Homo sapiens: one gene and its partners. The protein of the gene in region 1 purifies or fractionates together with the protein of each later gene. This does not show direct contact. Each region holds a gene or a part of one and is shown in the gene's direction. Other genes may lie near its edges.

Region 1 (5,680 bases):
TCCACATTCACTCCTGAAATAGCGGGTGGGTGGGAGGGGTGCCTGCTCCTGGAGAGAGGCCTGCGAGTTCTTAGAGAGCTCTGTATCCCCAGCATGGTTGGCCCCATGCACTGCATGCCCTCCTTGATGCCAGCTGCCATCTCCCTGCTGATGGTGCCTGGATCCCTCCAGCCTGGAGCTCCAGCTGCCTCCTGAGCCCCACGCCACACTCACTCAAGCTGAGTGCTGTGTAGCTGGATGTCTTCTTGTCTCCAACCTGTCCCACCTGCATTTCACATGTCTGAGAAGGGAGCCCCGGGCCGGGTGTGGTGGCTCACGCCTGTAATCCCAACACTTTGGGAGGCCGAGGCAGGGGGCATCACCTGAGGTCAGGAGTTTGAGACCAGCCTGGCCAACATGATGAAACCCCGTCTCTACTAAAAATACAAAAATTAGCCAGGCATGGTGGTGGCGGGTGCCTGTAATCCCAGCTACTTGGGAGGCTGAGGCAGGAGAATCGCTTGAACCCAGGAGGCGGAGGTTGCGGTGAGCCGAGATCGCGCCATTGTGCCATTGCACTCCAGCCAGGGCAACAAGAGTGAAACTCTGTCTCAAAAAAAAAAAAAAAAAAGAAAAAAAGGAGCCCCTGGCATACAGTCACCCAGCAAGATTCCCCAGTCGTCCTAGGCTCTTTTTCCTCCTCCCCATTGCTTCCTGCCCTCCTTAGGGCCTGTATCTTTTGTTTTCACAGCAGACAGGTTTCTAGTGCCTGGTGCTCCTCCTGCACCCCCCACGTTAGGGGCCAGAGCAGCTTTAATCAAATGCAAAGTTGATTGCATCACTCCCTGTTTACAAACCCCAAAAGATTCCATTCCCACTGAGGGAATCCACACTTCTTGGCAGATGCTTCCAGTCTCTTTTGGAAAGTATATATAAATATTTGAGGTATAAATAAAAGAGAATGAGCTGGAATGTTGCAGACTAGAAGGGAGCTAGATAAGGAAATGGGGGCCATAAGCACAAGGACTCCCCTTTCCAGATGGGGTGTAGAGGACATAAGGATGGCAAGACCGTTTACATCCTCGCCAGCTCCCTGGTTGGGAACATAGTAAATATCTTTGTTGATGGTGTGGGAGGAGCTAAGTGGATCAGGCTCTGGGCCTGGTTTCCTTGGAGAGGGGAAAATGAAAAGTGTTGATATGTAAACTCAGTCACCGACACCCTGCATCAGATCTGCAGGGCAGGCATCACCCCGCCGGCCTGGGTGAGACTCCTGGGTCTGGGCCTGGCCAAAGTCTGCCAGGTTGGGAAAGCTGCGCTTGGAAGAGGTCTGTTATTTTCCTCACTGCTTAAATCTTGAGGTCCCTCCACCAGGCCACCCCTGCTTTGTGCCACAGTCATGCGCTGGCACCTGGACTCACCTGGTCCTGCAGCCCCTGGCAATTTGATGTGCCCCTCCCGGCTTTCTGGAGCCACCCTTCCCTCCCTCCAAGACAGCCTGCCCTTTGGGAAATTTATGTTGTCTTTGCAGCTGGCACCGTGCTGTCTGGCACGTATATCAGTGCTGTTCCATTGATCTGTCCAGCTGAGTCCAGAGCAAAAGAGCTAGCTTTGGCGGGCAGTGAAGTGAGAGCAAGGGTGTGCGACCTAGCCAGGCCACTTACCCCAGCCTTCCCTGTCCCTTCACTACCTTGACCTCAGTTTTCTCCTTCAGGACTAAAGGCCAACTTCTTATGCTCTACAGCTCCAACCAGAGGTACCAGCTGACCCATATAATCTGGAAACAAGTTTGAATTCATTGCTGTTAGAAAGAATTGCAGTAATACTGAGTGAATCAAACAAGGCACATGTGCTCTCGTTTGCATTGCATATACATTGATTATCCCAGAAAGAAAACAAAAGAAACTGGTGATGGTGGTTACCTATTGCCTATTCAAAAATAACGGTTTAAAAAACACCCCAAAACTAATAGGGATGGATCGTGAGTGGTTACGGAAAAAGTAAAATAATGTTTTGCCCCTAGTTTGGATTTGACAGGAAGAACTGGTAATATTGGGCCTGAATCCATCCAGCATGGCCCTAACCAGCCAGGGCCAGTCTGGGCTGCTCCCCTTGGGTTGGGCCTGCACCCCATCCCTGTCACTCAGATGGCTTTTGTGGCCTGTGTCCCAGCTTGGTCTTCAGGTCTTGCCTGGCTGAGATTGTTGGTTTTCATGGTAAAAGCAGGGTCAGACTCCCTGCCGTCACCTGCTGCGTAAGACACAGAAAGTGCTGCCTGCTGACTGACTGTCTCTCCTCAGGGACTGGCTGGCTTCGAGCAGGGCATCGGAACCAGGCCTCCTGGCACTGGCCTGGGTAGAGCCAGGGCGAGCACCAGCTGACCCCCAGTGGAACCCTGTGACAGTCCTGCCAGGGCCCAGGCCATCCCAACCGACTTCCATCTCATGGACCCTCCAGCGGAGAAGCCGGGAGAGGCTGGCGGACTGCAGATCACACCCCAGCTGCTGAAGTCACGCACAGGCGAGTTCTCCCTGGAGTCCATCCTGCTACTGAAGCTGCGTGGCTTGGGACTGGCTGACCTGGGCTGCCTGGGAGAGTGCCTGGGCCTGGAGTGGCTGGACCTATCAGGCAACGCGCTCACCCACCTGGGCCCGCTGGCCTCCTTGCGCCAGCTAGCTGTGCTCAATGTCTCCAACAATCGGCTGACGGGCCTGGAGCCACTGGCCACCTGTGAGAACTTGCAGAGTCTCAATGCCGCAGGCAACCTACTGGCCACCCCGGGCCAGCTGCAGTGTCTGGCTGGGCTACCGTGCCTGGAGTACCTGCGGCTCCGAGACCCTTTGGCCCGGCTCAGCAACCCGCTCTGTGCCAACCCCTCCTACTGGGCTGCAGTCCGGGAGCTGCTGCCTGGCCTGAAAGTCATCGACGGTGAGCGTGTGATTGGGCGTGGTAGTGAGTTCTACCAGCTGTGCCGAGACCTGGACAGCTCCTTGCGTCCCAGCTCCAGTCCAGGCCCCAGAGCCACCGAGGCCCAGCCCTGGGTGGAGCCAGGCTACTGGGAGTCCTGGCCCAGCCGGAGCAGCTCCATCCTGGAGGAGGCCTGCCGGCAGTTCCAGGACACACTGCAGGAGTGCTGGGACCTGGACCGCCAGGCCAGCGACAGCCTGGCCCAGGCGGAGCAGGTACTCAGCTCTGCGGGCCCCACCTCTTCCTTCGTCTTCTGAACGTGGCCTATGGCCCAGGACAGCCTGGCAGGTGGCCTCGCTGCCCCCAGTTCCCCTCTCTGCCCCCACACTCGTCTTAGTTGCTTCACACTGGTCACTGGCCCTGCACACTGGGCTATTGCTTTATCCCTATCCTGAGAGCAGCCCCTCCCCACCATCCCTCCACATGCTGCAAGGACAGACTGAAGGGCTGTGAGCAGGTGTAAGGGCTCCCACATCCGTGAGCCTGTGTCCGCAGCTGCTGCCACTCTGGGCTGCTCCAGCCTGCAACTTAGTGGAAGGAATTACTTCCTCCTGAGGCTACAGGCGAGAAAGGTAGGGATGGGCCAGCCTCCCGTCTCAGCTGTTGGGAGACAGTAGGCAGGCTGAGTGGCCCAGAGCACTCCTGGAAGTGGGACTCCCCTGCCTTGCAAATGTGCCTCTCCAGACTGCTCCTGCACTTACCCCCTCCCCGCAGCACCTTCTCTGCCCGTTCTTGTCCACACATCTATTAAATGCTTCTGTTTTCATTTGCATCCCTGCCTGGCATTTCATGGGGGCACCTCTGGCTCTGGAGCACAGGAGGCTCTGCTCACCCTGCCCACAGGAAGGGGTCCCAGAGGAAGGGTCCTGTCCCCCTGCCCTCTCTGGCCGCCTCTGAGCTACGCTAAGGAGGAAGTCGTGCAACACAAGGAGCTGAGAGGCAGCTGGGAGAGCAGCTTTATTATCATGGCTGGGGATAGAACGGGTTCCTCTCCCTGGGGGCTGGGGTCTTCCACTGGTTACCACCCGCAGCGGTCCTGGAGGCACCACGCATCTCTAGACAAAAGGGGAAACAGGTTTGGGGGTGAGGGAGGTTGCTTCAGCCCCAGTCCCAGCTTTCCTCCCAGGCTTCTGACCTGTCCCCTCCCAGGCTCCCAAAGCCCAGCCCAGCCCCTCAGCATTCCCAGGGCTGGCCTCATCCAGACGGTGCTCTCAGCCCCCTGGTGCCTACCAGTGCTGGCTTAGCTGCGGGGCAGGGCCTTGGAGAAGGCGAACTGTCCAGGGAAGTAGAAGCTGTGGGGGTCCTCACCAGCCCGCTGCACCCTGAGGCACTGGGTCTCCTGGTGCTCCTCAGCCTCCTGCCAGTGCCCAAAACTGTTCAGGCAGTGTAGGAGGGGTGGGCAGTGCCAGTGGAGGGCTGCCAGCATCCTCCACATCCCCTCCACATCCCTTGGAGAATGTCCAAACAGGCACAGCGCTTTCTAGCCCCCACTGCCCTCCCTCCTGCTTGGCCAAGCTTTAGCCTCGAGACCAGCCCATAGGCTCAGCTTCCATCCATCTTCCCAGCCCTGTCACCACCTGTGCACCCTTGCCCCTTCTTACCCGCAGAACTTGGGTCTCTATGGGGCAGTGGACCAACCGGCCCAGAACTTTGTCCTCAGAGCCCAGTTTGATGCAGGCCAGGCATTTCCGTTTCCTCTGTGGGGGAGCGGGGAGCATGGGGTGAGCAGAGGAAAAGGGTGAGGGAGGCCTGGGCATCATGAGGGTGGGAGCCAGGGCTGCCCATCATGGGACCAGATCCCCAACTAGGCCCTCGAGCCCAGGAGCAAGAGGTCATGCAGGCCAGCAGGTTTCAGGCACAGCCACCCTAGAATGTCAGAAGTCAGACCCATGCAGTTTTCAAACTATGGAACTTTCATGTGTGTGCAGGCAGGAGTCCTTCCCAGATGGGTTGTGTGGCACATGCATAAACACGCATGTATGTGGTTTGTATGCAGGAGTGTGGGTGGATGGGTGTGTGATGTATGCATGGATGTGTCTGCTTGTGCTCGTGTGAAGGCAAGAATCCTCCTCCGATGGGTTCTTCCCACCCAACGCCTCCAGAGTGGCTCAGCTGTCACCTATTCTATTTATTTTCTTGTAAGATTTGATTTTGAGGTTGATGAATCATTGCTATAGTCCAGTGCCCTCCTTGAGCCGACAGAGGGAACTGGGGCCTTTGCAGAACCTGTAATACAGAGCCCAGGCCGTGCTCACAGAGCGGGAACTAGAACACAGTCACTGCACTCCCAGCCCAGGCATCACCCCCACGGTGGAAGGTTTGCCCCCACCGTGACTGATGACTGGAGTCCTGCTAGGCTAGGGGGGCACCAGACACACCCACACAGCCGGCTCCTTCCACCCAGGCCCTGATGCTTGAGAGAGGAACTCAGACCGAGGTGAGCCCTGCTCTGATGAAGATAAGTCCAGGGGTAACCAAACCATCTTCCTGTCTGCCAGGCCCCAGCTCCCACCAGCCACTCTCACAACCTTGGGCTCAGGCTGAGCCACTCCACCTCTAAGGAGGCTCTTCGCAGTGGGGTCTCTAACCTCAGGGCTTCTTAATGGACCTCCCAATTCATGCATGCACACCCAGGCATGTGCCCCACACCCCAAACCCCAAGTCCATGCACTCACACCCAGCATGCGCCCATTGCTCTCACACCCCTTCACTCACCCCATTGGGCCTGACTTTG
Region 2 (6,529 bases), on another chromosome or scaffold:
ACTTGCTAGTCATTTAAATTGTGTGAGTTTCAGTTTCCTTGTTTGTCATTGAGCTAATTTAACAATAATTATACTGGATGACAGTGATGATATAATTTGTATGAAATCATCCTGAATGTTATCTTTTACACATAAAGTGAGAATTTTTTTGTTGTATATCTTAACAAAACTTAACCTCTCTGTGGAGATGATACACTAAAAATGCATATTGCAAAAATCTTGACAACTGTCAAGTGTACCACTCTTATAGAACAACAATTTACATATGGCAAGATTGACCTGGGATTTGGAACAAAGGTTGCAGATTCTGAATTATGGTGAGTATATAAACTCTAATGACAAAATGGCAAGGCAGTAAAAAATCGAAAGATGTGGTGATTCTCATCCTTTTGGAGGACCATCCTTTGGTTATAACTTAAGATATAACAGATTAACAAACATATTTTCATAATGAATTTTTTGTAAATTCATTCAATTTGTAGATTGTGTGCTTTTTGAAGAAAGGTATTAACATTTGTTGTTTTTTATTGTTTAGGTTTGTTTTGTCTTGTTTTAACTTACTATAATTATCTAAGGGTTCTGAACATTTCTGGAGCTCCTTTTTGACATTGCCTCAGTAATCAATTTTACTTTTTTAAATGAAAAGCATGAAAAAACAGAAGAGTAGTTTTATTACAAGGAAATCAGTCACTGCTAAAGGCTTTTTAATAACAGACAACTCTCCTTCCTTGGCAGGTCAGGAATTATGGTTAAAGGTGGATTTTCACTGATGGTAATAAGATATTACTTTATACCCCTTCCCTCCTCATGAATTAAGTCCATCTAATCTTTACTGAGGACCTGCTGAGTGGTAGACACTATGATTTGTTTCTGTTTCCACAGATGTCACAATTGTCAGTAATTGTGGACCTTTAGAGTAAGAATTATCTGTTTTTATATTTGTATACTACTTTCAGGTACAAAACTCAGAACATGACCTAGTGTAATTCATTCATTACGTATTAGATATTCTATATTGCCTAAGGTTACCGTCTGTTGTTGATATTCTAGTGACAAAGCTAAGAATTAAATGAACTGTGTTTCGAAACTACTACTTACTTGAAACAGAAAGTTGAAGCAGGTTGGTAGTAAAAGAAACACTGTCTAAACTAAGGCTATTAATGCCAGTTTGTTCTCTTTGGATCTTGAGTTATAAGAATGTTGATTGAGATTTTTACTTCTCAATAGAAACAGGACTTTATCATCTTGAATTTAAAAAACACAAGTGTTGGTTTTTTTCATTTTCTTTAGAATTTTGGACAGAAACAAGCTCTAAGAAATTTTTCAGTTATCTAATTTAAATGTGATTTATCTTTAAAGCAAACTTGCTGCTGATGTAATTTTGAAAACTCTTGATTTGATTAACAAACTTAAACCATTGGTTCCTGGTATGGAAGTAAGCTTCTACAAAATACTTCAGGTGAGTTTAAACTCTTCAAACATTGAAGTTTATTCATACATAAATGGTCCTAATATAAGTTTCTGTTTTAATATTCTTAATCTTTAGAAGATAATTCTCTTAGAATTGGCAATGAGAAGAAAGTTTAAAGTTGTTGTCTTAAGCAGTTATAATAGTCTCACTGCACAGTTATTTTATATACTTTCACAGGAATTGAACATAAGTGCTCATGACACTAATGTAGAGAATGTTCACAATAGTGCTGCTTCCTCAGCCTTTTCCTTTCTTGTGTTGTATTTGTATATTTCTTCATTTGTTTCTGTTGGCATTGGAGGAAGAGTGATATTTGTTTTAGGGTTTTTGTTTTTGGTTAGGGTTGATGTAGGGTATTAAGGGGATAGGGAGACAGCTGGAAGAAAAGGATTGTGATAATTAGAAGGGCTGTGCAGAAAATAGCTAACTCACAAATTTCAATGATAATAGTAGCTGAATATGATCTCTAGCTGTTATCAAAAGGCAAAGTACAACAAATTTAGTTCAAAGTTCTAACTGGCTTTTATTTATGATTCTAGAATTTGGCAGCCTCATTCTATAAAATAGAATGAATCATTCCCCTGGGCTAAGCAGAGAAGGTTGACTTTATAGACCAGAAAAGGGCTGAAGAAAGCACAAATAGGGAACTAAAAGCAGATTGGTCATTTCAAAGTTACTTTTCCTATAGAATTATAATAAAGGGGGCTTCCTTATTATACTAACTCAGGTTGACTGAAATCTCCTGGTTTTTTGGAAAACTGGCCCATTTCAAAGTGCAGTTTGATTACATGGCACTCATCCAAGTGACTCCTTTCTGGTTTGATCTGGTCTGCTAAAGCATAGTGGAGGAGACTACTCCAAAATATTAGCCTCTTAAAAACTTTGTGTAATAATATCTACAACACCTACCTTTACAACAGATGTTTAACAAAAATGAGTGAATTAAATTACTGCAGTAGCTTAACAGAGACATCTCTAGTGACTGTATAGACAGTGTAGAAGCCAAAACTGAAACCTTAGGCAGGGACCACTGGCATGTTTTGAGATTAAGGGACTGAGTTCAAATGTTGACTCTACTGGTTCTTAGTACAGGCTTGAGTAAGTTATTTCACCTCTCTCGACTTCAATTTCCTCGACTACAAACTGGAAATAATGAGGCTTACCATTGAGGGTTTTGGAGATAAAGCTCTGCTCTTATCACAGTTCTGTGACACTGGATTATACTCAAGTACCTACAAGGTACTCAATATTTTAATTATAAGGGATTTATATTTTAATATTTTCTTCACTAATATCTCAATGTATTTTTAAAGGAGTCAAACTGATGTTATGTCCATTATTTAAGATGTTTTTCATAATACAGGTTGAGCATCCCTAATTTGAAAATCTGAAATCTGAAATGCTCCAAAAAACAAAACGTTTTAAGTACCAAAATGAGGCTCAAAGGTGATACTCAAAGGAAGTGCTCACTGAAGCATTTTGGGTTTTTGGATTAGGGATGCCCAACCAGTAAGTACATGTAAATATTCTAAAATCTGAAAAAAATCAGAAATTTGAAACACTTCTGGTCCCAGACATTTTAGATATATGTTGATGACTTGGGGCTTACAATACTAATGTAAAATATTTACTGACATAAATGATTGAAGTAACTGTATTTTTTCGATCTTTAAATTTAAATGTTCTAATTTAATTTGAATTTTACTTTTTATTTTATAGCCTTAATTTGGAAGTGATTGGCCATTTTTTTCTTTTAAATGATAGCTTGGAAAAAAACATTAATTCTACACATCAGTCAGTTGTGGGTTTTTTAATCCACGAAAATATATAAGGCATAATTTTTATAGGCACATTTGAAAGCATTCAAAACCTTTGCCAGATTTTTTTAAACTGTTCATATTGATTGCATTGCAGTGTAAACAGCTATAACAAGGTATAATATATTCAAACTATATAGACTATAATATATTCAAACATTAGAAACATTTTAGAATTTGCCTAGAATTAAGATTTACATATATTTACTCACCTCCTATCTAAAAGAGCTGACATTGTTTATTCTTTCTGCTGCTTCTTTTTTGGTTTCTGATTTATTTAGGACCCACGTTTGATTACTCCTTTGGCTTTTGCTTTAACGTCAGATAATAGAGAACAAGTACAGTCTGGACTGAGAATATTATTGGAGGCTGCTCCACTGCCAGATTTTCCTGCTTTAGTGTGAGTTGTAATCATTTGCAGTGTATCTCTTGTGGTGTTGGAATACCCTGCTATGTCTCTTTAGTCCTCAGTATAGATACACAAGCAAATTAGTGAATTGAAGACTTCATTGTAATAGTAATTTTTCAAGTGATTTCTAAAAATGTTTGATTCTTATAAATGAAAAGTTCAGATGTATACTCACTCAGGGAAAAGCTAGATCCAGGCAGTTAAATGTTCTTCAGGTACTATCCCTCTATGTCTCTAGCCACTTCTTTTTAATGATAACTTCTGGACACTCTTAAGCCTACATCCTCCCAGTTTAGTTCCTCCATAGAAAGAGCTTTTCCTTCCTGACTGTTTAAGGAAAAGGTCTAAGCATTAGTCATTGACCAGGCCTGGGTTATCCATGAGAACGATGTGGACTAAAAGTTAGTTGGGATAGGAGAATAGGAGAGTTCCTAAAGAAAAAAATCTGAACTTTTATCAGAAAGTGGAAAAATGACAACCAGGCAAAATTTTCTACTATACTCGTTACTTTCAAGCAATAAGAATATTTGCAATTATGTTTGAAAAAAAATTCAGATTTCAGGGCTCTCTGAACTAAATGTCTATTAGGAGTCTGGTTTAAAATTTTTTTAAGTCATTTATATGTATGAATTTGTAAAAATGGTTTGAATAATTTGAAGTAGTTGATAAACAGGTAAGATATTCCCTGTATACCGGGATCAGCAAACTGGCCAGTGGACAGGCATCTGTTTTTGTAAATAGTTTTATTGGAATATGGCCACACCCACTCATTTTTATACTCTGTCTATGTTGCTTTCACTCTATAAAAGCAGAATTGAGTAATTGTGACAGAGACCAGATAGGTCCTTGAGTCTAAAATACTTACTATCTTGACCTATAAGAAAAAGTGCTGGTCCATGCTATATGCTATTCACTGATTTAGCGATTCCACTTTTCAGAATTAGCAATTTAGGTCATCATACCTTAAGAGTTAAAGTATGGGATGTAAGACCTAGAGAACATATAACCAAAATTCCCTTAATTTTATAATAAATATTTTTTTAACAGCAACAACAAAAATACACAGGAAGCTTTTCAAGTTACAAGTTAAAAGTGGTCTGTAAAGCTGCTCTATTTTGTGATGGCCTGCTTGCATAAACTGGTAATCTGACATGAAACAAAACCTTAAGAGCTTCAAAGGGGAATCTGCAGCCTCACTGAACATGGAAGTCTTATCCTCTGCCTCTGTGTGTGAGGCCTTCCCACCATTTTGACTGTGTCTTGGCATTCCCTGTCTTATTTGTGTTGTAAATAATTTTCTCTTTGGGCATTATCTCAGATGTCCATTTTATGCTTACTATTTAATGCCCTTATTTGACATTATCTTGGGCGTTTAATAAACTGAATGTATATTATGGATGCATTGGTAGGTAGGGTTTTTGTGTGTGTGTATTTACTTGTTTGTTTTCGAGACAGGGTCTCACTCTATCACCCAGACTGGGGTGCAGTGGTGTGATCATGACTCACTGCAGCTTCGACCTCTGGGGCTCAAGTGATATTCCCAACTCAACCCCCTGAGTAGCGGGGACCACAGGCTTGTGCCACCACAACTGCTTAATTAATTTATTTTTTTATAGAGGGGTCTCACCAGGTTGCCCAGGCTTGTCTCGAACTCTTGGACTCAAGTGATCCTCCCAAAGTGCTGCGGTTACAGGTGTGAGCCACCATGCCCAGCCTATAATAAATTAGGCTGAGTGCCTGCCATCTTGCAGTTTGCACTTTAGTTAAGAGATAAGTGAAAAAAATATTTTGTTTTGTGGTAGAAAGCGTGTTCCAGATAAAGGAACAGCTCATATGAAGGCCTGAGGTAGGAGAAAGAGAGGATTTTAAAGGGTTAGAATGGAAGTCAGGTTGGTGAAAAGTATGTACTGAGTGAGAAAGGAAAAGGACTAAGGACGTAAAGGCCAGGTGATATCACCCATGATAAGAACATTATTCTGACCAGTACCAATAACTTTGTACTTATTACAGATAATCCACACTCATAAACTAGTCTTACAATGCCTCCAAACCAGAGGTGAAGCTGTCATTATAAAAGGTTAGAAACAGAAAAGTGGGTGCTCTGGAAAATTCAGAATATTTCCCAAGACTTCATTTCATCATGGTCTCCAAGATTATTTGAAGACTTCTATTCAAAAAAAGGACCCATTCTTAAAAATTCCCTAATTCTGCACTAAGTCTGCCTTTTCTTCTATTTTCGTATAATTTTTTTTTCCTTTCTTTGACTCCCATTCAGACTTGGAGAAAGTATAGCAGCAAACAATGCCTATAGACAACAGGAAACAGAACATATACCCAGAAAAATGCCCTGGCAATCATCAAATCACAGTTTTCCAACATCAATAAAGTGTTTAACTCCTCATTTGAAAGATGGTGTTCCTGGATTGAATATTGAAGAATTAATAGAGAAACTTCAGTCTGGAATGGTGGTGAGTGAAAAAATAGCAATTATAACCTGGTACATATTAGCTATATGTCAGTCCCAATTATAACGTGTATCTAAACACTGTCAGGTACAGATTTCACTATTGAAACCTTAATATAAGAAATAACAATATTCTGGAAAATTTGGAAATAAGAAAAATCAGTCAAAATTTCAACATTTTGCCGGGTGCGGTGGCTTACGCCTGTAATCCCAGCATTTTGGGAGGCCAAGGAGGGTAGATTGCCAGAGCTGAGGAGTTCAAGACCAGCTTGGGCAATATGGCGAAACCCCGTCTCTATTAAAAATACAAAAAATTAGCTGGACGTGTTGGCTCATGCCTGTTGTCTCAGCTACTCTGAAGGCTGAGG
Region 3 (6,529 bases), on another chromosome or scaffold:
TGGGCTAGGGTCCCCATTGTCCCTGGAATCTCTGGGTGGACACAGGCTCTGTCCTCTGGGATCTTCCCCCAAAAGCCAAATGTCTGCTGCTCTTGTGATGGCCACTCAGCTACTACCCTTTGGGTCCTTTGTCCAGAGTGTGAGGATGTTGGTGAAGGCCATGCCCTGACTAGATTCAGGGATCCTTTTCTTTCATCTAGCTACTGGGGAAGGACCTGGACCTTCTTCAGGGGCCTCCCTGCCCCTGGCCTCAGTGACCTGGACCAGTTTGCTGAGTTGGGTTCAGGTTTGGCAGATGCCTGCCTCTAAGTGCTGGCATTGGAGGGGCCCCAGAGCCTGACAGCTCCTGCTTCCTGACACTGTGATCTTGTTTAGCCTCCTCCTGGAGACCAAGGCTGGAGTGGGTATGTGAGTGGGTAGAGAAGCAAAGACAGCCATCTGTGTGTTTAGAAATGGGACGTGTCAGGGGCATGGACTCTTGAGATGGAGGAAGCCCCGAGGGCACCCAGGTTGGCAAAGAAGATTTGACTCCAACTATTAAAAAATAATGACTTTCCTTCACCGACCTTGGAAGCATCAGGGCTAGGGTGTTCTACTTTGCTGTTGAGCACATGGAGACTTAGGATGGAAGGCTTTGCCTGGATCACCCATGGAGTCAGAGGCTGAGCCACAGCCAGACCTGGGACAGGCCATCCACCTCCCGCGTGGCCTCCTAGATGCACCCTCCCTTCAGCTGGCTGCTGAGGGTCCTAGCTAGGTAAACCTTTCAGGCTCACTCCTCTTTCCCTTTATCATCCGTGGGCTTGCTTTTAACCCTTCTTTGCTAGCTTGCTTTAGTTGAAGGAGGTTCCTCAACCCTAGGGTTGGCCAGGCAGGTGGACAAGTGGAGTCTTGGAGTGGCTTCTCCTTGCCAGGCAATAAGTCTCTCATTACTGCTAAGTGGAAGGCTCATTTCAGAGCTCATGGTGAGAGCGGGGCGAATGCTATAAATAGTCGTGTTGTGAAGATTGGCGGGTGAGCAGTGACAGGGCAGGGGCCTTGCAGTCATCATAGTGGGTATTTGTGCTCCTTCGCAGGAAAGGTGGCGGGGCAGGCTCTGAGTAAGAGGCAACTTGACCCCTGTTCTGGCTGTCCCTGCCTGCCTCAGGGTGGCTCTGGCATGTCTGTGCCCCTCCATACTCATTGGGGGATGGGGAGCACTGGATTCTGTGTCTAGGCAGAGGGAGGTGGAGTGCCTTTTGGAACTTGGGGCCCAAAAGGTGGTACATCAGCCCACTGGGTAATGTCCTGTGCTAGATCTACTTGTCCTACCTGACCTTCCAGTCCAGGGTCTCCCTCTTCCCCATCAGCTAAAACCTGAGTTTACATGTGAGGAGGTATGGGAACCATACCTGATAGTCTCAGAGGTTGACATAGCTCTAAACTAGCAGGGGAATGAATGGGAGTGGAAGTGGTGTTTAGCTGGCCTTGATCCTTGTTCAGGGTCTATAGTAGCATGTCTGCAAGAGCAGGGGCTGGAGGCCTAAGGACTGGGGGTGCTGGTCTTCTGATATCTGTGGGTCAGTCAGCGTTGTCCAGGGTGGAGAGGAGGTCAGGGCCAGGGGGTCCTGGGATGGAAAGTCTGGTAGGTGAGACCTTGGCTTAGGCACATGGGGTCCCTATCCTGGGGTGGTCCAGGGGTGCCAAGCTTCATGGCTCTGTGAGACCAGTGCCTTCTGGAACAGCTTTTTGGTCTCAGATGTACACATAGGAGAGCAGTGCCAGGCTCCTGGGTTCTTTTACCACCTGCCCTAGGGTGTCGTCCTGGGTCTTCAGACTATTATTGCACTCTGGACTATGGGGCCCTGCTGTTAGGGTGATCTATGTGTGCCTCCCTCAGCAGGGCTTTGGAACTTGGAAGAGGTTGAGAGGCAGAGCCAGCCCCTGGGACAGAATAGGTAATAGACAGTTCTGGGGGTCACCCAGGGACAAGTGAGTCAGGGGCCCTGTAGGGCTCATTCTACCTTTTGCCACTCTCTGACTAGGAGCGGAAGCTGTGTGCCTATCCTCGGCTGGAGATCTACCAGGAAGACCAGATCCATTTCATGTGCCCACTGGCACGGCAGGGAGACTTCTATGTGCCTGAGATGAAGGAGACAGAGTGGAAATGGCGGGGGCTTGTGGAGGCCATTGACACCCAGGTGGATGGCACAGGTACAGAAGGTGGGGTATGAGGATGGGGCCCTCCTGGAGCTCCTCTCTTCTGGACTCCAGGGGCTTGGTTGAGGAGGCTCCTCCCTCTCTGGGTTGGCACTGTGGGTGTCAGGCTATGCTTGGCAGAGGGAGGAAGGAGACCCACCTACCTGAGGACCCACATGTGGAGTTGCCTGTTCCCAGACACATGGATCTACATAGATGTGGATTCACACACATTACCTCCTGGCAACACAGATACAAAGACCCTGCCTGGATTCCCTCCAGATGCAGCAGGAGTACCCTTGGAAACAAAGATCACAGACAGCTCGATGTTCATGGGAGGGGGCTGAGGCTGCTCAGGAAAGGAGTCCCTTGGGTGGGGCTCAGCAGGAAGTAAGATTGGCATAGATCTGGAAGGTAAGGAGGGGAGCAAAGTGTTCTCTTGTCCCTCAGTACGGGCCCCACCCAGAGCCAGCTGCTTTCTCCCTGCCAGGGAACAACCAGGGAGCATGCAGAGGGGAGCCAGGAGATCAGTCACCTGTGCCTTTCTCCAGGGCCAGCCCACACTCCTGCTGGCAGCCTCAAGGCCCCAGGTCCAGGCTGGAAGGCTGCTTGCCTGCCCACCCCTCTGCAATGATCTGTGACCCCGGGCTGTCTCAGGCACAAGGGGGTCTGCTGGGTTACATCCCAGATGGTCCCAGGGGGCCTTATCCTTGGCCAACCTGGTGGAGTTTGTGACTTCTAGGAGTGGTACAGGGCTGTGGGGAGAGGAACTGTCCCTCCTCTCCTCCTTCTTTAGCAGATGCTCTGCCCATCCAGTCTTCAACAGCCAAGGTCACCCTAGGGAGACGTGTCAGCTAGGGCTGGGTAGGAGGGTATTGGGAGCAGTCTCTACTCCCTAGGGGCCTGTGTCCAACACAGTTAACTTCATCTGCCACTTAATTACCTCCATGGGGTACAGCTCCCTTCTGCCTGGTAGTGCCCGGCAGACACTCTTCAGTGCCCCTACTGTGGGCACAGGACATGGCACAAGGTCAGCAGGCCCAGGCAGCCTCCAGGGCAGGAAGACAGAGTGCCTTCACTTTACTGTGACCTCCCTCTGCTGCCTGCCTCCCCCTCCTTGACCCACCCACCCAGCTTCCTTCCCTCCCAAACACTGCCTGTCAGGGTCATTGAAGGACTGCTTGGCACCCACTACAGCTGGCTGTAGTGGCAGCTCCCACATTCCCCAGCTCCTCAGCCTGTTTTCCTCCCCTCCAGCCCGCCCACCCACTCCCTGGTGTTGGGGCCAAGGGGTCTGCCCACCTCTCACAGGGCCTGTCCTGACACCCCAGCGGGACTCGGTGTTTGCCCACCAGGTGCATGCCACTGACACAGCAGTTGGTGGTGGGTGCATGCAGGATGTCTGACTGCCCAAGGCTTGGCCTGTCCCTGCCCGCCTCCCTGCTGTGGCCCTAGCTTAGGCCGGGAGGTGAAAGGGGGTGATTAGCTGCCTTGTGCCTGTTATTACATTGATGTATTATTTAGCTTCAGAGAGGCGATGAATATTTGATCGTCTTGCACTGGCTGTGGGCAGAGCGAGAGGGAGGGATTTGGGTGAAGGGGGTGGGCTTCAAGTCCCCTGCCCCAGTAGTCGTGGGGATTTAGGTAGGGCCCTGCCTTGCCTGGTATCTTCTGCCCAGGGATGCAGGCATGGGACTCTGGGACCTCCTCCTGTGTAGATCTTGGTGGGGGTATAGGGATGCTACTTCCCCGTATTGCATTCCTTTTTTTTTTTTCTTCTGCGGCAAGGTCTGGCTCTATCGCCCAGGCTGGAGTGGTGCAGTGGCAAGATCTCGGCTCACTGTAACCTTTCCCTCCCAGGCTTAAGCTGTCCTCCCACCTCAGCCTCCTGAGTAGCTGTGACAAGAGGCGTGTACCACCATGCTTGGCTAGTTTTTGTATTTTTTATAGAGATGGTGTTTCGCCATATTGCCCAGGCTGGCCTTGAACTTGTTAGCTCAAGTGATCCTGCCTCAGCCTCCCAAAGTGTTGGGATTCTAGGGATGAGCCACCATGCCCAGCTGGATTCCTTTTTTTTGTTTGTTTGTTTTTAAAGACAGTTTTCCTTTTTTGCCCAGGCTGGAGTGAAATGGCATGATCTTGGCTCACTGCAACCTCCACCTCGTGGGTTCAAGCGATTCTCCTGCCTCAGCTTCCTGAGTAGCTGGGATTACAGGTGCCTGCCACCATGCCCGGCTAATTTTTGTATTTTTAGTAGAGATGGGGTTTTGCCATGTTGGCCAGGCTGGTCTGGAACTCCTGACCTCATGTGATCCACCTGCCTCAGCTTCCCAAAGTGCTGGGATTACAGGCGTGAGCCACCGTGCCTGGCCTCCAGCTGAATTCCTTTGCTTGAAGTGTATATATGTCTCCAGGGGCTGTCTTCATTTCAGCAGGCTGTCCTGGCCTGAAGGAGGCACCCCTAGGCTCCTTCCTCTGAACATTCCTAGCCTAGGAGCTGGGTGGTAGGAGGTAGCATGCTGGGAAGCAGGCACATTCCTATACCTGGGGTCCCAAGAGAGCCATTGGGTGGGTGGGCAGACAGAACATACAGTTTAATAGGGCCAGGGAGAAACTGTCTCCCTCCTTTGCTCTTTTCAGGCCTGCGGTCCCTGGGGCACTGATCATTATTTAAGGAGCAGTGAGGGCCTGGCATCCTGTCCCCTGGTCAGAAGAAACTACCCAAAACTTAAAGCTCCCCCAGCTCCCTGACCACCTCATTCACAGGCTTCTGTCCTGGGAGCCACACCTGGGGCCTCAGCAAGAGGAGGGCCCTGGGCCAGCAGCCTGGGCTTCTAGGGCTCACCTCACCTCTGCCAGTAGCGCCCAGAGGGCATATTCTGGGGGCTGAGTGGGTGGTGGGGGTAGGGAGAGACCCCAAATTCCCCCCTCTCCTAATTCTCCCACCCCCAACCTAGGCCCCATTTGAGGCTCAAGGAAAGCCCCAGGCTGAGTCCAGGCGCCAAGCAGACCCCAGCTGCACCTGGCTTGGCTCCAACACCATGGAGACAGTGGCTGGGGAAGCTGGCTAACCCCTCACCTTCTGTGATGTTTGACAGCTGACCCTCTCCCCATCATACAGGAAGGGTAGCAGATCCACTTTCTCCCAGTCTGGATTCCTGCACACAGCGAGCCTGAGCCATGTGTTCCTCCTTGCCACCCCAGCCTGCATTCAGTGCCTCTGATCCAGGGAGATGAACCCAGGGGTTGCTCCTGGACAGGGCAGATGAAGGGGCTGCTTGCTTGGAGGATGTATTGGGGGTGGAAGGAGCAGGTTAGAAGGAGTTTGGGCCATCAACCTGGCTCAGCACTGGTTTGGGGCACCCCAACCACCAGCAGAGTGCTCTCATCATCCCCTTTTGCTATCTTGTGGCTCAGGAAGCACCAGTCATTGGGGGTGGGGTGGGTAAGGGTTTCTCAGGGTCGACCCAGGCATAGGGAGAGAAAACCCTTAACATGTTTCATCCCAGCACCCTCCTCCTTGCAGCTGGTTGAGTATTTCTCAGGCCTTCTCCATCCTCCTCGTACTTCAGCTCCCTCCTCAACTGGGACTTGGTGTGTACCAGAGGCAGGGGCCTGCTGACTCCCTGGATGCTGCTCCTGGGAGCCCTGCACGGGGGAGGGCTGCAGAGGGGCCTCCTGCTGCATTCTGCAGTCCTCGTGCCCTGTGGGTGATGTTCTGTAGCTGGCCCTGGACACATCTCTTTCCAAGCTTGAAGTGGGGGTGGGGGAAGGTGGAGAGGACACTACTTGTGTCTCTTTGTTCTACCTCAGCTCCTCACCTCAGGGCTGAGTGGCCCTTAATAAATGTGGGGGGAGGGCAGCAGGCTTTGTGGAAGTGCAGGGAGCTGAGGCTAATTTAGAGTGGGGAGAAGAGTGCACAGCTGCCTCCTCCCACCCTCTCTCCCTCCCTCCCTCCTTCCCTCCCTCCCTTCCTCCCAGCTCTTTCCCTCTGCCCTGTCTGTGCAGCCCCAGTCAGGGTAGAGGGCAGAGGGCAGCTGGAGCAAGCCCCCTGAGCCCGGGAGGCTGCATTATTCATGAGTGCACTGCGTGCTGAGTTGCCTCTCCCTGGAGGAGGGGGTGGGGTGGTCCTAGCTAACCTGTGCTCCCTTTTCCTGGTCATAGGAGCTGACACAATGAGTGACACGAGTTCTGTAAGCTTGGAAGTGAGCCCTGGCAGCCGGGAGACTTCAGCTGCCACACTGTCACCTGGGGCGAGCAGCCGTGGCTGGGATGACGGTGACACCCGCAGCGAGCACAGCTACAGCGAGTCAGGTGCCAGCGGCTCCTCTTTTGAGGAGCTGGACTTGGA
Region 4 (6,529 bases), about 48 Mb from region 1:
CCTCTCAGGCACAGCTGGCTGTTCCGCAGTGAATGCCGTCGGTGAAGTCCGTCGACCTGTTGTCAGGCATGGCCACTGATCAAATTCTTCTCTGTTTTCAGCAACTGGAAGAAAAACTCAAAGGCCAGGCTGACTATGAAGAGGTGAAGAAAGAGCTGAAGTAAGTACGGAGAGCCCTGTGGCCCCTCACACGCTGGGGCGCATTAGGGCCATCTGCTAACAATGCCAGGCTGGTGGCAGGAAGCCTTGGCCCCCTGCCCTCTGGCTCAGCAGATGCCCGTAAATGCAGCCAGAGTTCTACCACTGCATGGTGTCCTGGGCTACCCACCACTGTGGGCGTTTGCCCTTGGGCCTGTCCCTGAATTCTTTGGACTTTTGCTAAAAGCTGTGCATTGCAGGTATTCCAGAATGTATGGAATCAGGGGCATAGGGCTTTTACAGAAATGATCAAATATGACCTTGTTTTGCAACTATAAATTCCCCAAACAGAAACAAAGCACAGGAGGGAAATGTTTTCGGGTTGAAGGTGGGCATATGGCCTCACGCTGCCCCGGCCTCCTGGACTCAGGAACTCTGTCTTCCAAACTCTATTCTCCATCTGTGAGGCTGTAGCCGAAAGCTTATCATCTTTTCAGGGCTAATGATGGCATTCTCAGTTCTCAAGCTTCAAAGTTCCTTTCTCGGCCAGCAGCCCCCACCTCTGCCTCCTCACCCTGAGCCTGCTTTGGCACTCTGGAGCTCCCAGGTCCTGGTCTTTACCTGTCCCCCCACATCCATAATGCTCCAGGCTCACTGACCTCCCCTGCAAGCCTGGAGCCTGTGGTCAGACCCTCTACGTTCATACAGCTCCCCTGGATCGTCAGCCATTCCAAGCCTTCCCACTGGCATGCCCGCCTCACTCCTAGGTTATTAAGCACTGCAAACGAAGGTTGCCTAGGGCATGGTGACCAGCCCCACAGGTCCCCCGTGCTTCTCGCGGCTGGAGCTCTGCTGGTTCGAGGCTTCCTCAGGGGTTCCTCCCTGCCCTTGTCACTGTTACCCCAACCACTATCCACAGATGCCCTAGCCCTCTGCTAGGGACAGACTCCCGCCTCTGGTCTTGGGTGCCACCTCCCATCTCTGCAGGCTGCCCCCTCTGCCTAGACCTTGAGTCCCTTCCTTCCTGCCCCTCCTGCTGTCCCATCAGCCCCTTTCTCTCTTGCTGCTATTTTCCATTTCTCCTTTTAAGATGAGCCTACACCCACTCACCACGTTTTCTTTGTGTTGTTAATTCCATTCTGCTAAGAAAAGCTCCTCGGGCATCCTCTTGAACCATCTCACTTCCATGACCAGCTGCCTTCTCTCGCCTGGGACCCCCAGCCTCCCTGGCGTCTGCTGGCCCTGGTAGTCCCTGTCCCCACCATGCTCTCCCCCTGAGCGGTCTCATCCCCTCTCCAGCTGCAAAGCCTCTGCCGGCACCTCCTCGGACAGACCCCTACATCCCTCTAACAGTTCCAGCCTCTGTAACTTACTTACTTGCTTGCTTACTTATTTATTTATTTGACAGAGTTTAGCTCTTGTTGCCCAGGCTGGAGTGCAATGGTGCTATCTCGGCTCACCGCAACCTCCGCCTCCCGAGTTCAAGCGATTCTCCTGCCTCAGCCTCACAAGTAGCTGGGATTACGGGCATGAGCCACCACCCCGGGCTAATTTTGTATTTTTGGTAGAGATGGGGTTTCTCCATGTTGGTCAGGCTGGTCTCAATCTCCCGACCTCAGGTGATCCACCCACCTCAGCCTCCCAAAGTGCCGGGATTACATGTAACTTATTATTAAACATTACCTGGTTAACCTTCTCTACCTGCCTCTCCTATCCCATTCTTTCCTTCCTTTCCCTCTTCTTCCCTCTTCCAAAAAGAAAAAGAAATTGGGCCTTTTAATTTTGAGCCAGAGAAACTGCTGCGAAGGCCTTTGCCCAGCCTCACCCTGGGAGTTAGTCGTCGTCTTCATTGTCGTCTTCGTTGTCTTCTTCTTTCTTCCTCTCTTCTTCTTTCTTCCTCCTCCTCTTCTTCTTTCTTCCTCTTCCTCTTCTTCTTCCTCTTGCTCCTCCTCCTCCTCCTCTTCTCCCCCAACCCCCACGTTCACTTCATCCCCTGGGAGCTGAGGCTTCCAGGCTCCAGCCTGCAACACATACCGTTCTACTCCCTCTCATCCACAGCCTGCCGGACCACAGGCTGCCCCTACCCCCACTGAAGGGCTGCCACACCAGCCCCGCTTGTCACTGCATTTCTGCTAACTCTTTCTGTTGCGTCCGCACATGACAGGCCCCACCACCATGTGCACATCTGGAAGCCCCACTCAGGTGGCTTCTTTGCCCAAATGCGCTCCTAGTTTTCCACTTCCTGGTGAACCAGCTGTGCTCTTGAGCTCTTGCCCGCGTCCCCTTCTCAGCATCGTCCCATTTCCACTTCCTCACCCCCACGCAACAGGGGATGCTGACCTCAGATCCTCATGCACTGCAGCACAAGACACCCTGTCCCTTCAGGGCCCTTCTCCAATGCTTGTTCATCATGACACTGAGACGTGGTCTCCAATCCATCAAGATCCCTCCTGCTGGGGTCCTCACAAGTTCTGTCTTAATGGACCACTTGGAGTCTTGCCTATTACCTGTAATGGCCTGTAAATTTCCTGGAGTACGGACCAGGAGTGGTTCTGATTCCCCACGGCAACAAGCGGATAGCAGGCTGCTGGTAAAGATCTGTAGAATAGATAAAGAGCCACGTGGTCTTTTATTACATAATCCTAAAGAAAATAGGAAACGAAGGACAGGATTCCATCTTAAGAAACCCCTTTCAGCTGGGCGCAGTGGCTCACATCTGTAATCCCAGCACTTTGGGAGGCCGACAGATCACCTGAGGTCAGGAAACCAGCTTGGCCAAAACCGTCTCTACTAAAAATAAATTATCCAGGTGTGGTGGCTCACACTAGGGGGACAGAGGCCGAAATTGTGGCTGCAGGAACATGGCGAAGGTCCGGTTGACTCTGCACCTGCGAGTCGTAAATCTCACGGTCCAGCCAGCCTGCTCTGGGTCTCTCTCTTCCATCCTTGGTATTTCAAAGAAACACTTGCAGCTCCTTCAAAGCCACATAGCCTCACTTCCCCTCTTCTCCCTGGTAAACTCAGCAAAAAAGGGACATCCACAGCAAAAGGAACTCAAGAAACAGTAATAATCCTGGGGACCTGGACTCACTGAGACAGCCCAGAGACCGTAGTGATCAGGGTGCGGCCCTTTTCAGTGCCATTGAGAACAAGGGAGGGAGAAGTCACCTTCTCTTGCCACATCTTTGTCATTGCACTCCTTCCCCAACCTGGGGCTGCAGAGAAGGTCTGCCCACCTGGCTTCTGAGTCATCCAAGTCTAGGAGGTTGCTCTTTGCCTATGTCCCCTGGTCCCCAGGTAGGTGCCAGTTAGGAGTGAGGTGTGGGCAGTGGCCGCCCTGGTGGGTTCCCCTCTCTCTGGCTTCTCCTTACAACTTTTTCCTTCCCTTTAAGCTTTACAAATACATTCCACTTGCAACAATGTTATGTCTGTATTAAACTTTAAAATTATACTCTGAACAGACCTGGTGTGATTCCATATGGAATGATTTACATGCTAGGCAAGAAACTTTTGCCAGCCAACTGCTAGTTGAATAGTTATTCTAGAGACATTATCAGATTCTATTACTGCCAGGGAAGTTGTTAAAGTTGACAGTTCTTCGGTTCCTGGAGAGCAGGAAATTGTAATGTTAATGCTTATTAATGTGGCTGTTGTCAAAGGTATAAGTAGAAAATAATCACTCTGGTGGCTCATGCCTGTAATACCAACACTTTGGGAGGCTGAGGCGGGTGGATCACTTGAGGTCAGGAGTTCGAGACTAGCCTGGCCAACGTGGTGAAACCCCGTCTCTACTAGAAATACAAAAATTAGCTGGGCATGATGGCACATGCCTGTAATCCCAGCTACTCGGGAGGCTGAGGTAGGAGAATCGCTTGAACCTGGGCAGAGGTTGCAGTGAGCCAATATCGCGCCACTGCACTCTAGCCTGGGTGACAGAACGAGACTCTGTCTCAAAAAATAAATAAAATAACCCCTCTGTTGTGCTCTTGCAGCATTCTGAAGTCCATGGAGTTTGCACCGTCCGAGGGCGCTGGGACACAGGTACGTGTCTCACCTCAATGGTCAGCACTAGCATCAGCCCCGCTGCTGGTTACCACTGGTCCCTCCGGCATATCCCATGATCCACTGTTTCTACGAGACCTCTCACTTACAGCCGATGAGTCATACTTCAAGAACATTTAACCAAGTTGAAGCAAATTATCTTTTTTTTTTTGTCTCCTTTTTTTCCATGTGTCCAAGGCATGAACCAGGCATAGATCAAAAGCCAAGCTGGGGATGAACAAGGGATTGCTTCATCCCTGACTGATAGGAGATGGGCACTACCAAAAAGCAAATTATCTTTAACAAAAAGAGGCAAAAAGAGAAAAGCTAGTGTTTTCCAAACTGGTAACTGAAGTGAAATTGTGATTTCACTTCAGCAGGTACTAAGAACATAAATAAAAAACAATTTCAGATTGTGTTTAAGAAGGCCAGGCTCAGTAGCTCATGCCTGTAATCCCAGCACTTTGGGAGGCCAAGACAGGAGGATCGCTTTGAGGCCAGGAATTTGAGACCAGCCTGGGCAATATAGCAAGACCATGTTGCTATTAAAAAAAAAAAAAATAGCCAAGTACTGTGACATATACCCGTGGTCCCAGCTACTTGGGAGGCTGAGGCAGGAAGATCGCTTGAGCCCAGTAGTTCAAGGCTATAGTGAGCTATGATCGCACCACTGCACTCCAGCCTGGACAACAGATTGAGACTGACTATTTTTTTTTTAATTGCATTAAAGAGCAGCCAAAAATGGATTGGTTTAGGAACTTTAGTTACATGCTGCCTCAGTAGAGAAGGTACAAGGGAAGGATGACTGTGGCCCAGGGTCATCTGGTGGCCAATTAAAATTGACATCCCAGACCAAGCATGGTGGCTCACTCCTGTAATCCCAGCACTTTGGGAGGCTGAGGTAGGTGGATCACTTGAGGTCAGGCATTTGAGACCAGCCTGGCCAATATGGTGAAACCCTATCTCTGCCAAAAATATAAAAAATTAGCTGAGCGTGGTGGCGCACGTCTGTAATCCCAGCTACTTGGGAGGCTGAGGAAGGAGAATCACTTGAACCCAGGAGCCAGAGGGTACAGTGAGCCAAGATCATGCCACTGCACTCCAGCCTGGGCGACAGAGTGAGACTCCATCTCAAAAAATTAAAAAATCAAATCAAATAAAATTGACATCCTAAGTGGAATCTGACTCCTGATGCCCAGAAGACAGCCAACATCTTTGTGGCTGGCAAAAAAAAAAAAAAAAGAAAAGTTCCCTTTACAGTAACGTTCGGACAGACGTTTGTGGCTTGGCAGCCAGTCTTATGGCCAAATGAGGCACGGGCTCAGGTCGCTTGAGTTTGAGAACAGATGAGAGAATAATTAATTTTTTTAGGAGCTGTGGAAGTCTAAGAAGGAAAATGACTTCAACTAGAATCCATTCTTTCTAAAGGGAACTTGTTTTCCACGTGTGTTAAACGACTTGGGGGGAAATCAGCTGTCCGCAGCCCACTTCCTAATCAGATCGAGAGCTGGGTGGGAACGCGGACAGATGGAGGGAGGCAGGGCTCCAGGCCTGGTGGCCCCGGGAGCGGGTGAGTGGCCGGCCCCGCAGTGAGACCCCCGCTCTGCCCCTTCTAGGATGCGGCCAAGCCCCTGGAGGTGCTGTTGCTGGAGAAGAACCGCTCGCTGCAGTCCGAGAACGCCGCGCTGCGCATCTCCAACAGCGACCTGAGCGGTAGGTTGGCCGGGCTTCGCGCGTGTGCGGTGGTTGGTTCGCTTCCAGGGGTCGGTCGAGGACGAGGAAGGTGAATCGTGAGTCTGGACAGATGCATGGCCAGAGAAGCGCCGGTTGACGAGAACCTTTGACTAACGCGTGTTGGGTGCCCTCCTCCTCACCGCTCCTCCCTTCCCTTCCCCGCCCTGCTTAAAGCTGGATGTCGAGACGGGCCAGCCGCACAGGCTCTGCGGAGGTCAGTTAGGGGCAGTGCGGCTGGAATCCCCGGGAGGGACAGCTCGGAGGACGTCGGCCTTTCTGATCTGTGTCTGGTTGTGCTGCACAGAGGCCAGGGGCAGTGTGAACCCAGCCTCGCTCTGGTGGTGTTTTCAGGGACAGCCCCGGGCCTGCCGGGTCCAGTAGAGGTTTTTCTTCCTTGGTCAGGTTTCCCCTGGGGACGCGTCCCCCATCCTTAGCCTTTCTTGGCTCATCCCCCAAATGGTGGCGTCACTTGACTGTGCTTCTGGTTTGGGCAGCTGGTAAAACGCGTACAGGTGTCTCGGGCTCTAATGGTATTGCATTCTCAAAACGGGCGCGCGCCTCCACATCGAGGGGGCTCGGTACGGTGCATCGCCTCAGAGCAAGAGGTGCGAGCGAA
Region 5 (6,529 bases), on another chromosome or scaffold:
CTTAAAAATGAGATATGTGTACTTACTAAAGTATTTTTAGGTAAAATAGTTTTGAATATAGGGGAACAATTGAAGACTTGAATTTTGTTGACTAGGCACTTCATTTCTCCATTTTCCCTCAGTGGGAGAGGATCTCTGTTGCTGCTATTTTAGGACGATATCCCACATAGGTTACTAGGTTGACCTGAGCATATAAACTCTAATGACACAGCACTGCTTTACTGATCTTGGGCTCAGGACCATCAGGAACAGACTCACAGCTGATGGTAGCTCTCTGCTTCAGATTCTGTCCACCTGTACTGAGGGGCCTGTCTGAGCCTCCCCCATACTCTCCTTAAACAGGTTGGCTTTGTCAAAATGAGCTTAGGTCCCAGGGCGTTTAAATGAAGCTCTCACTACGTACTGTTGCCTTATCCTTTTTTTTTTTTCTTTTGAGATGGAGTCTCGCTCTGTTGCCCAGGCTGGAGTGCAATGGTGCAATCTTAGCTCACTGCAACCTCCGCCTCCCCAGTTCAAGCGATTCTCCTGCCTCAGCCTCTCAAGTGGCAGGGATTACAGGTGCCCACCACCACGCCTGGCTAATTTTTGTATTTTTAGTAGAGACGGGGTTTCACCATGTTGGCCAGGCTGGTCTTGAACTCCTGACCTCATGATCCGCCCGCCTCAGCCTCCCAAAGTGCTGGGATTACAGGCATGAGCCACCACACCCAGCCTATCCTTTTGTTTTATAAGTTAATCCCTCTGATTAAGGATAATACTGGCTTCTTCATTTCTAGTCACACACTCTTTGAAAGCTATTTCTTTTTTAAATAAGATAAGATTTAAATAAAAAGATATGGTAGTTGATAGCTTTTTTTTTTAATTTCAAAGTTTTTCTAGCAGATCTTAAATTATTATGAATTGTCATAATTTTACACACTGGGATAGGTAAAGTAGCCCAATTAGAAAGAAAACAGCAGGACAACTGAATAAAAGCTCAACTAATTTAAAGAGGACTCATGATTTTTATCAATCCTCTCCTAAAGGTATCCAGTGGGATTGACCTGAACTTCAGTTCTAACCCACAGATGTTGGAGACTGGGACAGAGGGAACATGTGCTAACAGTAGAAATGGAGTTTGAGGCACTCTGTTTAACCTGACTTAAGCAGAATCAAGGCATAGAATGTCTCTGGTCGATAAAGGCAGACTGAAGTCTTCAAGAGCAGGCAAAACATCTTAACCATCTTTGGATCTTTGTATCCTAAGATGTTCAAAAAACTTGTTAATGTCAACATCAAAACAATTTCAACTTCTACTCTACCACTATATATATGTACTACTGTTATGCATTATGCCTTAGGATCAGTGAATCAGTATTTGGGAGCTTTTTTTTTAAAGTATAAAAATAACAGATGGTATTTACAAGTGTGACATAATTCTAAGAGTTTTGTGAATATTCCAAATTAGTTGCTATGATTCTTAGCCCTCTTTCCCATAGTTAACAAATTGTATCATAATGCTGTTGGATAAAAGTAAGATTAGTTGAGTTCAAATTTTCAATCTATTTTAATTTAGTTATGAAAATATTTGGAAACATTGGTTTTTTAGCTTTTACTAGTAATGTTTACAGAAACATATTAATGTGCTAATAACCTTTTTGTAACTTCCAAGTCCTCTTACTCGTGTATTATTTGAGGCATTAGACCTTTTCTACTTGAGAAAATAAATTATGATCTTACTGATTTTAAAATTTTAGAGTAGAACTTTAAGTTCATATTTATTTTCTTTGATTTTGTATTTCACCTCTTTAAAGTAGAATGTACCTTTGCCTTGCACCTTGAGCAGTTCAGGATTCCTGTAATAACCACACAATTTCCATTAATTATTTAAGTTCATTAGTTGCATTAATAATACATTATCATAAAAAAGACCTATCAACAGGGTTAGCCAGCTCTAAATATAATTTTTATTTTGAGCCCTTAAGAGTAATTGTAGTTGTTGTGATGATTGGAGTCCCAATATATTGATCTTCAATGGACACCATCTTTTTCTATTTTATTTAAAGGCTGTTTTGATAGTTCTTAGCAAACTGTCCTGATTTGCAGTGACAACCAGATTCTAAAGCTTCTTAGTCTCCCTCAACTAAAGTCAATTCCTAGAATGGTATCTGCAGGAGAATTACAGCAACTATACTGAAACATTGATGTTGTGTGCATCTTGCTATTTTTATATGTTAGTTGATACTCTTGGTCAAAATTTTAGAGCTAGAAGGAACCCTGGGGTCCACAGAAGTGAACACAAATCTATTTGATTTCCTTGAAGCATTTTTGACCCCCTTAAAAGCCGTTGGATCCATGTGGAAGAAAGACAGTAAGAGAGTGGCTCTTTAGTACAAGATTAGCATGTTTATAGTATTTGAACGTGCAATGGGGGAAGGGCTAGAGGAAGGGGATCATATGCACCCTTTAAAGAATCTCTTTTGAGCAGAGGATATTTCTGAGAAGCATGGATTCTCAAAGTAAGAACAGTAGATCTAGTCTTCACCTTTCGTTTCTCAAATGCAGAAGCATAGGCTCAGAAAGGTGAGATGATTTGCCTAAACCTACATAGCTTGCCTTTTAACTTTTCTTGAAGTCATGAAATGTCTCCTTTGAATTTGAAGAATCCAAGGATGCACTGTGGAAGTTCCAACTAATGTGACTTCGTAGTGCATCTAAAGGTTACTTAGGAAAAAAATGCAACACTGTTCTGTATAGCATAGTTACTGATGGCACCACCAAATTGGTGACACTCAAAGATACTCACTGAGAAGAACTTGACAACATCTGTATTTTAGCCATTCTATAAAGATGGAGCATGGATATGGGCCTTGTGCTAGTGAAACTGACATTCTGGCGGGGGACAGGCAGTAAACTAGTAAACAAAAAATACCCAGATATTGGTAAGTTATCATGCAGATAACTAAAATAAGATATTGTGATAGCAAGTTACATTAGGTAGCCAATGGAGGTCCCTTGAAGTGTGGTGGCACTTAAGTTGATATCTGTTGACCAGAAAGTCTTCCAAACAGGGTTCAGTGAATTTAGCTTTCTAGGCAAGGAGAATAGCTGTGTAGAAGCCTTGAGGCAAATATAGGGTTGTATATTTAAGGAATGGAAGGTCAGTATGGCTGGAGAATTAGTGGATGAGGAAGAAAATGGTAACAGATGAGGTAGGGCCCAAATAATAGGACTTTGAAAGCCAGGTAAATGTTTGGAGTTTATTCTTGGTGTGATTGGAAGCCGTTGAAGATTTATTATTATTATTATTATTATTATTATTATTTTTAAATTATACTTTAAGTTTTAGGGTACATGTGCACATTGTGCAGGTTAGTTACATACGTATACATGTGCCATGCTGGTGCGCTGCACCCACTAACTCGTCATCTAGCATTAGGTATATCTCCCAATGCTATCCCTCCCCCCTCCCCCCTCCCCACCACAGTCCCCAGAGTGTGATATTCCCCTTCCTGTGTCCATGTGATCTCATTGTTCAATTCCCACCTATGAGTGAGAATATGCGGTGTTTGGTTTTTTGTTCTTGCGATAGTTTACTGAGAATGATGGTTTCCAATTTCATCCATGTCCCTACAAAGGACATGAACTCATCATTTTTTATGGCTGCATAGTATTCCATGGTGTATATGTGCCACATTTTCTTAATCCAGTCTATCATTGTTGGACATTTGGGTTGGTTCCAAGTCTTTGCTATTGTGAGTAATGCCGCAATAAACATACGTGTGCATGTGTCTTTATAGCAGCATGATTTATAGTCATTTGGGTATGGAAGGAGACATGATCTGATTTACATTTTTAAAGTCCACCCTACTTATGAAGGATGGAATATAGGAGAGCAGGAGTGGAAACAGGGAAACCAGTTAGGAAGCTGCTGTCGTAGTTTGGTAAGGTTTGGGTTAGTGTTAGTAGTAGCTATAGATAAAGGGGAGCCCATGTGGGATTCATTCTTGGGTTGGAGTTTAGAGAGCTTACTGATAGATTGGAGGGGAGGGAGAACAAGAAATCAAGGGTTATTCTGGGTTTTTATCTTGAGAAACTGGATGGTGTCTTTACAGAGATGGGGAACAGTTGAAGTCAGGCTTTGATGACCTGATGTCTGAGACTTGGTCTCCTTAACGGAGATTTGCTGGAAGACTTAGGGCAAGTATCTTGACTTCTTTAAAAAAAAACTTATCCCATCGGTAAAATGAGGGCTGTACACTGGAAATTCTTTTAAAGTCTCTTCTATTTTTAGCATTTTTGAGCTGGGGATTGATTTTAATGTAGGATATTCTGTGGAAATACAAGAGCAGGCTTTATCAAGAGGAGATAGGATGGGCAAACAAGCCCTGATGGGAGACCAGGACTGCCAGTGTTTTCTAAGCTTCCTGTGTCGTCACCGGTCCACAGAAGTGAATGCAAATCTATTTGATTTCCTTGAAGCATTTTTGACCCCCTTAAAAGCTGTTGGATCCATGTGGAAGAAAGACGATGAGAGAGTGGCTCTTTAGTACAAGATTAGCATGTTTATAGTATTTAATTTAACCAATATTTATCATATGCTTACTAAGTGTTGGATGAGACCTGAAAGTCAGCTCTGGGCTCTGTTAAATTAAGGTAACTTTTTTTTTTTTTTTTAAATAGCAAAAGCAGACATGTGTCAATTTAAATTCTACATCTATGTATTTGGTAAGCGGAGGCCTAAATAACACTGTTAATATTTGGGATTTAAAATCAAAAAGAGTTCATCGATCTCTTAAGGTAAGCAATTTAAAAAAAATCTTCATGAAAAAATGGATATCTTAATGCATTTAGAGTACTTACCAAGCTTTTATTTTTGAGCTTTTATGATAAAAATAAGAGGCTTCAGAATTGAACTAAGATTTGTTAGGGAAAATAAAGGTGCTATTTAGCCAAAAACTTATTTTTATGTCTTTTTTCTTACATGTGTAGCATTAATGCATATGATCAACATTTACAACTTTTTTCTTGTTTTTTATTTAGTTCTACTCTTATTTGAATGAACCACTTCACTCATTTTTTCCTAAACTATGGTGTGTGGTCATCAGGGATCTTTCCTTAGGGCCAGGTGGAAAAAATGAGAGTTGTTTTGTGATGATAGTATTCAATACAGTAATCAGAGTTGGGTCAGCTTTTTAGTTATGTAGTATATTTGGCTGCTCTTGTTTGTGTTTTTTTTTTGTGTGTGTGTGTTTGTATTTTTAACTTGGTAATATTTTGTAAACTAATTTACTATTTACAATTAATGTTTCTTTAATAATTAGCTTTTTGTAGTTTCAGAAAATAAAAATATTCAGCACAAGAAAGTCTATGGTCTTTTTTTTGGAATTCTACTTTTCATTATATTGTCTTTTTAATATTTAGAAGTTGATCTTAAAATTAATTTTTGTCTTAAAAAAGTTTTAATATGAAAAATATAAACATATTTATATCTACACACATACACAGAGGAAGAACTTTCTTTAATCCATCTCCCATGTAAGCTTCACTTACCCCATCCCTGCATGGCAAAATTTGATGATTTTTTCCATTTTCAGCTTTCTCAATTACTCTGGATGGTTTTCTGTCTTTTCGGTGTGAAATTCGTAATGTTTAGCTCCCTCATTCATTCTGTTAATGAATATTTTGACTACTTGTGATAGTGGGAAATCTAATCTTTTACCTTTGGATCTCTACAGTCGTCTCCCTGGTGATTAACACAATTTCTGGCACTTAGTAGGTTCTTAGTAAATGTTTGCTGAATGACTTATTCTCCACAGTTGAAATTAGGAAGACACTTGCCTCTTTATAAAGTCATAGAAATTACATTGGACCCCATGTTCTTAATTTCCCAAATGGGAACGATACCCAGAACGTCTGCTCTTCCTTTTTTCTTTTCATCAAACATTTTTTCCTCAAGATAGCAAGTGTTCCTTGGTTTTGGGAAAGGAATAATAGGTAAAGAAATCTCTGAAAATACTTGAAGGACCACTTGAAAAAGTTGTAATATAAGTGGAATATCATAGCTATTATTCTTGCTGTTACATAAATAATTATTAGATACAGGGCTTAGTTTGTTTGTATTATTGAGATATGGCATCTTCCTGTTAAAAACTCTTCTCCCAATTTTGGTCACTTTTCTCTCCTGCTGGACATCTCTAATTTGATGTTGGAAAACATAGTCCTTGTGAACTCAGTTTGTTTAAAACCTGAAAGTTTTACTTCCTCAAAGTGTATTCCTAATTGGATTTGAGAGGCAGCCTGGTATAGTGGAAGGAAGAGAGGCTTTGGAGTTTGACATGGAATTGAGTCCTGGCCCTGTCACTTAGCAGTTACGTGAGCTTGCGCAGGTTTCTTAACCTCTCAGTGTCTCATGTACTTCATTTATAAAATGGGCAAAATGACCTTGCCCCTCAGGCTTTTCTAAGCATTAAATAATATATAAAGCTCCCAGCACTAGTAGGTTCTCAGCAAATGGAAGCAGTTTCTGTTATCTCACAGATGCCTTGCT

The links.
Region 2: the proteins of LRRC61 (region 1) and CIP2A purify together in Homo sapiens (affinity purification with mass spectrometry; one large-scale study listed by BioGRID and IntAct). This does not show direct contact.
Region 3: the proteins of LRRC61 (region 1) and TEX264 purify together in Homo sapiens (affinity purification with mass spectrometry, with the first as the bait; one large-scale study listed by BioGRID). This does not show direct contact.
Region 4: the proteins of LRRC61 (region 1) and CUX1 purify together in Homo sapiens (affinity purification with mass spectrometry, with the first as the bait; one large-scale study listed by BioGRID). This does not show direct contact.
Region 5: the proteins of LRRC61 (region 1) and NEDD1 purify together in Homo sapiens (affinity purification with mass spectrometry; one large-scale study listed by BioGRID and IntAct). This does not show direct contact.

Annotation. Positions count from the first base shown.
Region 1 is NC_000007.14:150,334,439-150,340,118, forward strand, and holds the end of LRRC61 (leucine-rich repeat-containing protein 61), read left to right. Parts: intron 1-2,279; 5' UTR 2,280-2,423; coding exon 2,424-3,203; 3' UTR 3,204-3,718; downstream 3,719-5,680. Other genes in the region: RARRES2 (retinoic acid receptor responder protein 2 precursor), read right to left, coding at 4,187-4,303, 4,548-4,643, 5,662-5,680.
Region 2 is NC_000003.12:108,560,285-108,566,813, reverse strand, and holds part of CIP2A (protein CIP2A), read left to right. Parts: intron 1-175; coding exon 176-317; intron 318-1,359; coding exon 1,360-1,459; intron 1,460-3,569; coding exon 3,570-3,688; intron 3,689-5,972; coding exon 5,973-6,165; intron 6,166-6,529.
Region 3 is NC_000003.12:51,697,382-51,703,910, forward strand, and holds part of TEX264 (testis-expressed protein 264), read left to right. Parts: intron 1-2,024; coding exon 2,025-2,193; intron 2,194-6,342; coding exon 6,343-6,529. UniProt on the Homo sapiens protein: Major reticulophagy (also called ER-phagy) receptor that acts independently of other candidate reticulophagy receptors to remodel subdomains of the endoplasmic reticulum into autophagosomes upon nutrient stress, which then fuse with lysosomes for endoplasmic reticulum turnover.
Region 4 is NC_000007.14:102,189,712-102,196,240, forward strand, and holds part of CUX1 (Homeobox protein cut-like 1), read left to right. Parts: intron 1-101; coding exon 102-160; intron 161-4,130; coding exon 4,131-4,179; intron 4,180-4,364; exon of another isoform or gene 4,365-4,494; intron 4,495-5,795; coding exon 5,796-5,892; intron 5,893-6,529. UniProt on the Homo sapiens protein: May be involved in intra-Golgi retrograde transport.
Region 5 is NC_000012.12:96,912,959-96,919,487, forward strand, and holds part of NEDD1 (protein NEDD1), read left to right. Parts: intron 1-4,662; coding exon 4,663-4,779; intron 4,780-6,529. UniProt on the Homo sapiens protein: Required for mitosis progression. Promotes the nucleation of microtubules from the spindle.